Homo sapiens: one gene and its partners. The protein of the gene in region 1 interacts with the protein of each later gene in a pairwise test. Each region holds a gene or a part of one and is shown on either strand. Other genes may lie near its edges.

Region 1 (3,500 bases):
CTCTAAATAAATTAAAAATAAAAATTGTGTCCGACAGAGGTGGGTTGAGTTCTAGTCCTGTTACACACTGACTCTGGGACCTCAGCTATGTCTGAGCCTTAGTTGCTTCATCTTTAATAGGACCTTCCTTGCCTAATTGCTCTCAAGACTAAATGAGAATATATATACCTGGACAGTTCCATTATTAATATATTAAGGTTAGAATATATTAATATATTAAGGTTAGAAATGAGCATGGTGGTATGGTGTCCATATGCTGCATAGAAATAGAAGAAGAGAGTTGAAAGTTGATAGAATCAATTCACTCCCTGGGCATGGAGGAAGGGAGGTGCAAGATGGAGCAGGGGAAAAGGGCATAGAAAAGAAAAGGGAAAGTACTTTTGCTCCTAATCTAGCACCACCTACCACAAGGTCATGGCCCAAGATCTGCTTCTGAAACTTTGCCCAGAATCCTTTACTTTTTGGTGAAGAAGATTTTTAAGATTTGAAAATACATTTTATTTTAGAAATGAAAATGCACCTTGCCTCAAAGAAGGTAAAATTTGTATTTTTCCAGGTAGAAAAGATGTGTTTCAAATGACCGTGAAAGTAAAACATGCCCACTATAAAAATAAAACAGACAATGTAGAAAAATCTCTGCATTTACATGGTTAAAAAATACTTGCAATCCCATCATCCTAGATAACCAAAATTAAACTTTGGTTTCTATCTTTCCAGGTACTTTCAATGTATCTATGCATGTCAAGATAACTATTTGGCTTGCATATTAAGGTGGGAAATTACCACAAACTATTAAGGACCCACTTCTTTTATTTAACACAGTTGTTTTCAGTCTCCTTCCTACCTTTCCAAAGGTCACACAAATGGCATACTCTCATCAGTAAACTGTCTTATTTCCTATGGTATTCTAAATCCAGAGCCATGTTCCTATCCTCCAATCCCACCTCACCCCTGCCATTGGAAGGCTCTGGTCCATTATAACCATATATCATGGACATCTTTGGATGGTAATGAAAAAATATATATCTTTTTTCATGGCTGCATGATATTCTATTTAAAAATAACAGCTAACTTGTATTACATTCTTAGCCGAATAGTAGGCAACAGGCTAACCAACTTGCAGGCATAATATCACTGAATCAGGATTCAGGGATCACCAAAATCCTACAAAGGAAGGTTGTTATAACTCCCATCTTAAAGGTGAGGAAATTAAAGCCCAGGAAGATTAAGTAACTTGCTCAGGTGGCAAAGCTAGCAAGCAACAGAGCCAGGATTTGAACCCAGGTGTTCTAATACCAGGGCCCATCCTCCTAACCATGATGTCTACCCCTTTCATTATTTATGTGCCCATTTATTAATAGCAACGAGGTGTGTGTTTCTTGCAAACCTTACTTACTCCAACATCTAGATGTTTTTCTTATTTATATTGAAAGGATATGCTTTTTCAGAACAGGAATGAATCTGCTGTGGCTTCTCAGCTTATCAGCTAGCAAATGGGAGCTAGGCCAACCTCATCTGTAATGTGAACAGTCACTAAGTACTGATGTGTTTGTATGTTTCTAAAATGACCTTGAGGTTGCTTGGCTCTGGTGATGGAGGGAAGGACTGATGGATGAGGTCGAGTTGCTGAATTGACTGTCCTTCACAATTCCATATTTATTTGTTTATCTTCCATCTCTCATTATGACCTGTCTGGAAGTTGGCAGAAAAGCAGGGAGGATTTATGGATGTGCCCAGATAGAACTGGGCTTGGGGTTAAAGTCTCTTGTGGCAGCCACTAAAAAGCAAAAACAGAAACAAACACGGATACAAAATACAGACAGAGCTCCCAGCACAATTGAGTTTGAATAGTTGTTTTAGAGACACACAGGCACATCAGTACTTAGTGTTTGTATTCATTATAGGGTGAGGCTGGCCCAGGCCCCACTTCCTCTTTGTCAGACTGAGAAGCCAAGACAGATGATGTGCCTGTAGAAATAGTTTCCTGCTGCCACCTTCTCTCCTCATGGCTGTCTTGTCTCCATTGGGCAATTCATCTTTACTGTCTCCCCAGTCTTTGGCCTCTTTCCTCCATGTTCTTATCATTCCACTCATCTCTCCTCTTTCTGGGATCTGGCAGTTGTATCTTAACACAGGACAGATAGATCCCTCCACTTTTCAAAGTCTTCTCAGTTTGATCCTCAGCAAAGAAGAAAGGCTGGATTCCTTCATTGTTTACCATGAAGGAGAGTGAGACTGATGGAGGTTAGGTGACTTGTCTTCCACTGGTAATTCAGAAGTATTTATTGAGTAGCTACTATGTACAAAGGAAGGGGCTAGTGAAGCAGATGCTATGCCCAGGATTCAGGGTTCACCTGATATGGTTTGGCTTTGTCCCCACTCAAATCTCATCTTGAATTGTAGCTCCCATAATTCCCACGTGTCATGGGGGTACCCAGTGAGAGGTAATTGAATCATGGGAGCAGGTCTTTCCCATGCTGTTCTCTTGATAGTGAATAAGTCTCAAGATATCTGATGGTTTTATAAAGGCGAGTTCCCATGCACATGCTCTCTTGCCTGCTGCCATGCCACATAAGACGTGCCTTTGCTCCTCCCTTGACTTCCACCATGATTGTGAGGCCTCCCCAGCCATGTGGAACTGTGAATCCATTAAATCTCTTTCCTTCACAAATTACCCAGTCTTGGGTATGTCTTTATTAGCTGCGTGAGAACAGACTAATACATCACTCAACCAGTTACACCAGCTGGGACCCAAGTGCCAACATCTTTATTTCTTACCCCTTGTTATCAGGCCCCATGGAAAATCTAGCCTAAGTCTCTTGTTTTAAGAGACCAATATACCGTGTGCTGGTTTCCCGTTGACCTTCTCGCCCCAATCCAGACATAGTCTCGCTCCATATTTTTCCTGCTAGAGGAGTCTGCTTTGCTCTTATAGTTCATTCACTCATTCCACAAATATTTACTGAGCACCAGCTACATGCCAGGCACTGTCTCAGGCACTAAGAAGCAGTAATAGAAACAAACAACGACTACCCTGCCTCCCTGGAACTTATAGTCTAGCTGGAGATCAGATATTTACCAAACAGTCACAAAAACAGTGGCAGATGGCAGCTGTGGAAGGGCTTTAGGAAAAAAGAATCTGGGGCTGAGAGCTTATAACTGAGGCCCATTTCGGGTTTGTGGGATACTAATGTGCATAGATGTAGAGGAGAATATAGCTTCATTGTTGATTGAATGTTTTCAAGTCACCCCTTATGTTTATTAGCACTGACAACAAAGGCTTAACCCCTTAGTGTCCCCACTGCCATCACACTCACCCGGTCTCGTACAAGCACCTCTCAACTGGCCTCCCTGCCTATTTTCTTGGCTCCCTTCATCAGTCTCTTTTCCACATTAAAGCCAAAGAATGTGAACTGGTTTGTGCCGTGTCCCAGCTTAAAACTTTCAATGGCTTTCCAATGCCCTTAAAATGAAGACCAACAACCCTAATCCCCTCCTCC
Region 2 (3,734 bases), on another chromosome or scaffold:
TGATACCTTCCCCACCTATCTCCTTACCTTTCTGTCTGCTTTATGAAGCAATCTATTAAAATCAGAAGGCAAGCAGGTACACCTCACTGCAAACCTAACAACAAACAAACACACAAACAAATTAACACTACTTACCTGGCTGCCTCCATGTTCAGTGTCAATGTATCTTGGCATTGGAAATCTGGAGTGAAGAATTTCCTGTGCATCATCCACTGGGGCTTGCAGAAGGTGGCGGAAATTTTCATACTCAGGCATATCCTGGTATCCTGACTTCCGCCACTGTGCTATGGTCTAATTTTAAAACAATTAAAGAAATTACTTTAAATTTCTTGCCCATCCAAAAATCTTGAGATTTTTCCAAAGAAAATAATCTTTAGAAACTAAAAAAATTATAGACCATTATTCCATTTACCTCAATTTTTTAAAAGTTACAATTTCAGTAGAGAAAATATTCTTAATAAATATAAAATTAGAATATTTCTTCTCCTTTAAAAGTAAAATGAAAGAATACTTACATAAGTCAGAAAATTTTTAAAACACTATGCTTATCAAATGAATGTTAGCTAAAAGCTATCTACCTAAGCTTATGATACGTGAAAGCAATTGAATCAATCCATAGGTAAGTAGCTCTAAACACCATGTAATTAAATCATCTAAAAACTTATGCCTGGTTTATTTTCTAAGTTAGCTGAATCAGTCAACACATTCTTTTATAGCTTTATACCTCTGTATAAAACAATCATGTGCATTTCTGATTTCTCCTTTAACAAGCTACTTGAAAAAGTAAAAATCACCATAAAACAAAGAAAAAGCAAAAAAAAAAAAAAAAAAAAAAAAAGCCCTGTCAGTATTACAGGTTTTTTTTTTTTTTTTAACAAAGGCAAGAAGTTAAAACAGGTATTATTCTTAACAAGTAAAGGGCATTAGAAACTGGTATCAATTAAAAATAATTTACAATAATAATAATTAAATCTTTTAAAACTCCTGGGTAGGTCGGGCGCGATGGCTCACGCCTATAATCCCAGCACTTCGGGAAGCCAACACGGGCGGATCACCCGAGGTCAGGAGTTCGAGACCAGCCTGGCCAACATGGTGAAAACCTGTCTCTACTAAAATGCAAAAATTAACTGGGCGTGGTGGCATGTGCCTGTAATCCCAGCTACCCAGAAGGCTGAGACAGGAGAATCGCTGGAACCCGGGAGGCAGAGGCTGCAGTGAGCCAAGATAGCGCCACTGCACTCCAGCCTGGGTGAAAGAGCAAGACTGAGTCTCAAAAAAAAAAAAAAAAAAGTCCTGGGTAGTACTACTTCAAAGAATATTTTGAGTAATGTCTTTACTATTACAGTACAAATCTTTTCTAAAAATTTTTTTGTAGAGACAGGGTCTCACTATGATGCCCAGGTTAGTCCTGAACTCCTGGGCTCAAGTAATCCTCCTGCCTTGGCCTCCCAAAGTGCTGGAATTAGAGGCGTGAGCCACCACACCCAGTCACAGTGCAAATCTAAAATCATTTACAATTAAAGCAACTGAAAAAATAAATCTGCAGAACTTAGTAAAACACTAGACTGTAAGTTTGAGAACAGATCTGTGAAAAAAGAACACATCTATATCTTCCAAAGCATCCAGAGGAAGCACTTAACAATTGGCTGAATGAGTAACTGCAGGAATGCATCAAGGTCTGCTAAATACCTGGATTAAAGCTTAATAGCTACTAAAATCTTCTGCTCTCTGTAATCATTTACCATTCCAATGAAGTTACAAATTTTAATTCATGTATGCTTTAAATGAGTTTTCAAGATCATGTAGAACACTTAATAATAACTTATAATGATTGCATAACGTAAAAGGAAAGCCTGCCCACTGACAAAGGCTGACTTTTCCCCCCTTAATGTTTTCAGGTAAAACCCAAAAGTGCCATTTGTCTATGTACAGTCAGTGTTCTTACTTTCACAACACTGTGCTTTGCGCAAAATCCAATTGTGTGACAAATGAATAAAATAATCACATGTGGGTCAACTGCAATTGAAGCCTAAAACCTTATAGTAGGCAGCATCATATTTTATTATTTTATAAAAATGGAAATCAAAGTTTATCATAGATGAAACACTAGCCATACAATTAGAAGTAAGAAAACCTTTCTAAGTAAAAAGACTTTACATGCATAGCTTTAAATGCTATTGAAATCTTACCTCACCATGATAAATCAAAATCTGGAAGAATGTGTCCATGAGAAGAATACGATCTGCAAGAATGCTACTGCTATCAAGAAGAACCGGCTAACGTAAAGAAAACAATGAGAAATGAGGAAAAAGGAAAAATAATCTACTCAATAATATAAAATAGATGTTTCCAGGTTATTTTCCAAGTTTCTTTTATTTATTTATTTATTTATTTTTTTGGAGAAGGGTCTTGCTCTGTCACCTAGGCTGGTGTGCAGTGGCATGATCTCAGCTCACTGCAGCCTCAAACTCCCAGGCTTCAGCAATCCTCCCAACTCAGACCCCCAAGTAGCTGGGACTACAGGTGTGTAACACCATGTCCAGCTAGTTTTTTCATTTTTTTGTTTGTAGAGATGGGGTCTCACTATGCTTCCTAGGCTGGTCTCAAATTCCTGGGCTGAAGTGATCCTCCTGCCTTAGCCTCCCAAAGGCTGAGATTACAGGCTCAGCACTAAATTTGAAACTTAGGCCATGATGGCCTAAATTTGAAATTTATATTTTATTACCTAAAATCTCTTGCTATTATGAATTCTTATAGTGTATTTTAATTTTTTAAGGAATCCCTTTAAGCTGAGGTAACAAACAATTTAAAAATAGAGTAAAGTCAAGAAGAATTCAAGGATAACTCCTAAGCCTAAATGGGGAAAGGCCTGGGATAGAGCAAATTTGGAGCACATGGGAAAATAGTTCTGCATATGAAATGAAAGGGAGTGGTCTGAACTGATGACATAAATCTAGGTGTCACATGCACAAAGATTAAAGCACAAAGATTAAAGCAATGGGATTAGACTACATCACTGAGAGGGAAGACAGGGAAAGCCAGAAGATTGATCCCTTAAGCATGTCAACACTTAGAGGTCTGAAAGGGAAAAGCTAGCAAAAGACTGAGAAAGAACGGTGAGTGAGTAAGAGGAAAACCAGGAAGGTATAGGTGTCACAGAAGCCTAGGGCAAAAGGTTTTCAAGGGCTGAGTACTAGTGAAGACTAGGTAAATACTGTTGAGAGCTCTGGTGAGATGTAGGACATTGGTGGTCTTTATAAGAGCCATTTCAATATAATGTTAGGGACAAAAGTCTTACTTATATAGGTTGAGAAGACAATGTGAGGTGAGAAAGTATAAACAACAAATAACTTTTTTGAGTTCAACTCTCACCAGGAGCAGAGAAATGGGGTGGCAGTTAGAGAAAGCGTGGGTCATGGTGGGGGTGTTTTGGCCGTTTGTTATAAACCTGACTGTTGTTATGGTTTCTATGTTAATTAATAAGAATGATCCAGATGGACAGAAAGTAATTATATAGAACAGAAAGAAGATAACTCCAAAAGCAAAACCCTAAGAACATGAAGCTGATAGGATTCATGGATTAAATGAAAAGGTTGAAATTTAATAGGAGCAGGCACTAGGGACAGTGGGATTCCAATTTTCTTCTAAACACCATTCTACATTTTTCAGATGTCTACATGCACGTTATTACTCAGAAGAAAAAAAAGTTACTTCTAAAACATTCCTGATTCAAA
Region 3 (3,734 bases), about 50 Mb from region 1:
TTTGAGGCCTCAGTGAGCTATGATCACACCACTGCACTCCAGCCTGGGCAATAGAGCAAGAGTCCGTCTCAAAAAAATTGTGTTTTAATCATTCTTTATAATATTAACACAATAGAATGTGAATCCTGGGAATTTATAAGAAAAATGTTCATTTTAAAATACATTCTCTATGACATGTAGTGCTTCCATTTGTTCTGTATATATTGTATTTCTTTCTCTTTAGTTGGTGCAAAGAAACAGGTTAATATGCAGAAGAAATCCATATAGGATCTTTGAGTATTTGCAACTCAGCCTAGAAGAGGTATGTTTTCAACATATTATTATTTCAGCCATCGGTCTCTGGGCCTGAACTACACTATATGTGAACCTACCTCACAGTGTAGTTCTGTATGTAATTCAATTATTGAATATTGTAATTCAGTATTGAAATCACTATGGGTAGCTCCCAAGTAGGCCTGCCTTTCACTCCTCAGCCTTTATTTCATCAGTTCTAAGATATGTGTTTGCAATCATTCCACAGAAGATTCGAGGGGTTTTTCTGAGTACTTCTTTTCTCATTAAGATTTTAGATTGTTAGGCCGGGTGCGGGGGCTCACACCTGTGATCCCAGCACTTTGGGAGGCCAAGGCAGGAGGATCACCTGAGGTCAGGAGTTCGAGACCAGCCTGGCCAACATGGTAAAACCCTGTCTCTACCAAAAATACAAAAATTAGAGTGATTGCTCATGCCTGTAATCCCGACTACTCAGGAGACTGAGGCAGGAGAATTGCTTGAACCCGGGAGGTGGAGGTTGCAGTAAGCCAAGATCGTGCCATTGCACTCCAGCCTGGGTGACAGAATGAAACTCTGTCTCAAAAAAAAAAAAAAAAAAAAAGGCTTTATGTTGATGGCTAGGTGTGATGGCTTATGCCTGTAGTCCAGCCACTTGTGTGGCTGACGTGGGAGGATTGCTTGAGCCCAGGAGGTCACGTCTGCAGTGAGCCACGATTGCACTACTGCGCTCCAGCTTGGGCGAAAGAGTGAGACTCTGTGTCAAACAAAAAAAAGAATAAAAAGATTTCAGATTGTTAACAGATGCTGACTGGTGATGCCGGGGGTAGGGGGGTGGAAAGAAGAAAAAAGTGGATTTCGGATTGGCTGAATATTTTGTTACTAATTTTCACTAGCTTTTTCAAAAATACTATAATTCATATACCATACAATTTATCCACTTAAAGAGTACAAGTCGCTATTGTTTGGTATATTCATGGAGTCTCTACTTTTCATATACTGTGCTACATGATTCAGATCATGTAGTGACTGCTAGTTAAGTAAATGGATTTATTTCCTTCTGCAGGATCCCTCTACTTAATGCAGTAGCTACATTCTTGAAAGTTAGCTTGGGCCTGGTGCCATGGCTCACACCTGTAATCCCAGCACTCTGGGAGGCCAAGGCAGGCAGATAGCTTGAGCCCAGGAGTTTAAGGTCAGCCTAAGCAACATGGCAAAACCCCATCTCTACAAAAAATACAAAAATTAGCCAGGTGTGGCGGTGCATGCCTGTAGTCTCAACTACTTGGGTGGCTGAGGTGGGAGGGTTGCTTGAGCCTGGGAGGTCGAGGCTTTAATGAACCGAGGTCACGCCACTGCACAAGCGAGATCCTGTTTCAAAAAAAAAAAAAAAAAGTGGCTAAAAGTGGCCTTCCATAAACTGCATCATATTGTCCCAGTGACCTGGAGTTCCTCTAACCTGTGGTCACTTTATGCTCAGACCCTCTTTTCTTGCTTATGTTGATAGTGCACACAGAAATGTCTTTTCTGCCTTTGAAGCTAGGACCGCTTCTTGGGCTCCCCTCTTCTCCAGGAGCTCTGTGATGGCTTTCTTTGATAGTTCCTGCAGTGTCCAGTGTGGTTCTTGGCATACAGGTAGGTCCCAAGAAGTGCTATGGAACACATCCATGTTGGTAATTTTATAGCTGAGACCACAGGAAAGTAATTGTGGGGGCCGGGCGCCGTGGCTCACACCTGTAATCCCAGCACTTTGGGAGGCCGAGGCGGGTGGATCACGAGGTCAGGAGATCGAGACCATCCTGGCTAACATGGTGAAACCCCATCTCTACTAAAAATACAAAAATTAGCTGGGTGTGGTGTCACACACCTGTAATCCCAGCTACTCGGGAGGCTGAGGCAGGAGAATCACTTGAACCCGGGAGGCGGAGGTTGCAGTAAGCTGAGATTGCACCACTGCACTCCAGCCTAGGTGAAAGAGTAAGACTCCGTCTCTAAAATAAAATAAAATAGAATAAACAATTCAAAATTCCTTTTCTCGGTTGCACCAGCCACGTCTCAAACACTGAACAGCCACGTGTGGCCACTGGCTACTGTATTGAACAGCAGATGCGTAGGCATTCCCAGCACTGTGGAGCGCTTTATAGCCCACATGTACCCGTTCTTAGATGTTTGGCCTGTCAGAACCTCAGATTTCTTCTCTGTAAAGTGGGGGCTATGTAACATCTTGTTCATAGGATGTTCTGGAAATTAAATAATACATGTAATTGGGTCAGGACAGTACCTGATAATATAGTAAATGCTCAATAAATGTTAGTGCCTGCTATTTTTGTCATTATTAAGTTACTTGTAAAAGCTAATTAGCAGCTTGTTGGAACCTTCTTTTTTACAATCACAAAAATGCCCATTGGGTACCTACTATGTGCCAGGCATTGGGCTAAGTGCTACCGATACTGAAATAAGTAGAATGTGACTTTGGTCTTAAAGATAGCCCAGAAATCATTACAGTTCAGTGTGATAAGCATAGTGTGGCATATGGATCTTGTCAGTATCGCTCTTCCTGTTTCCTTGGGCCCAATGCCTGACATCTATTAGGTGCGTAATACTTATTAAATGAATGAATGTACAAGATAGGGAATTTGCATCGAAGCTGGTGGAGACCATCTTGCAGGGCTGAGGTGGAAAGCTTTTGCAGTCATGATAGCTGAGGATAGTAAAGGATAAATGGGGCTTGCCACATGGACACAGGGTAGTAAAGGCTCTTCCAGATAGCTCTGCCAAAACGAATGCCAGATGGGGGAGGGTGTGTCCATGAGTCAGGGTCTGGCCTGGTCCTGGGCCAGCAGGGCACTGCAGGGGATTCCGTAGGGGAGTGGCAGTGACCAGAGCTAGCATCAGTATGGAGGGTGGGCTGGAGGCCTGGCCTGGGAGGTGGCAGCTGTAGGCGAAGGGTATTCCGTGTCAGATGCTGGGAGTTCAGCTGCACTGTTCCAGTTGACCAGCTGCTGTCTTTTATTGACAAATTTTTTAAAGGCTGCTGCTGCCTGCTGCCTCCTCTTGAACACCCCCTGATGAAAGGCAAGAGTAATAGGAGACAGGAGATGAGGTTACTCTGCCTTCTTAGAAGCTGCCTGGCACCTGAGAACATTTCAGAGATGTGTTCCAGAAGTTTTCAGGGAGCACACCGTTAAACCTAGCTCTACTTGTCTTTCTGTTTTGGCAGATTTCTTTTGAATGAATCACCTATGTTTGGTGCACTGCATGTACCCGCGGAGTGTTTCTGTGAATGTTAGTCAGGAACACAGGCAGAATGGGGTCTCACCCCTGCTGTGGTGATTCACAACAGCTCTCTTAAGGGACTCAGAGTGGTGATACACAGCTAACTTAGAAGTCTGCTCAGCGCTGACATGGGAAGCTTTTAGTCTGCAACCTTCCACAGATGTGGACATGCGGCCTTGTAGGGGTGT

What was found.
Region 2: the proteins of CADPS (region 1) and SEC23A interact in a two-hybrid assay, tested with the Homo sapiens proteins (one large-scale study listed by BioGRID).
Region 3: the proteins of CADPS (region 1) and TSEN2 interact in a two-hybrid assay, tested with the Homo sapiens proteins (one large-scale study listed by BioGRID).

The regions. Positions count from the first base shown.
Region 1 is NC_000003.12:62,756,917-62,760,416, reverse strand, and holds part of CADPS (calcium-dependent secretion activator 1), read left to right. Parts: intron 1-3,500.
Region 2 is NC_000014.9:39,040,597-39,044,330, forward strand, and holds part of SEC23A (protein transport protein Sec23A), read right to left. Parts: intron 2,277-3,734; coding exon 2,190-2,276; intron 292-2,189; coding exon 136-291; intron 1-135.
Region 3 is NC_000003.12:12,504,931-12,508,664, forward strand, and holds part of TSEN2 (tRNA-splicing endonuclease subunit Sen2), read left to right. Parts: intron 1-223; coding exon 224-301; intron 302-1,777; exon of another isoform or gene 1,778-1,905; intron 1,906-3,734.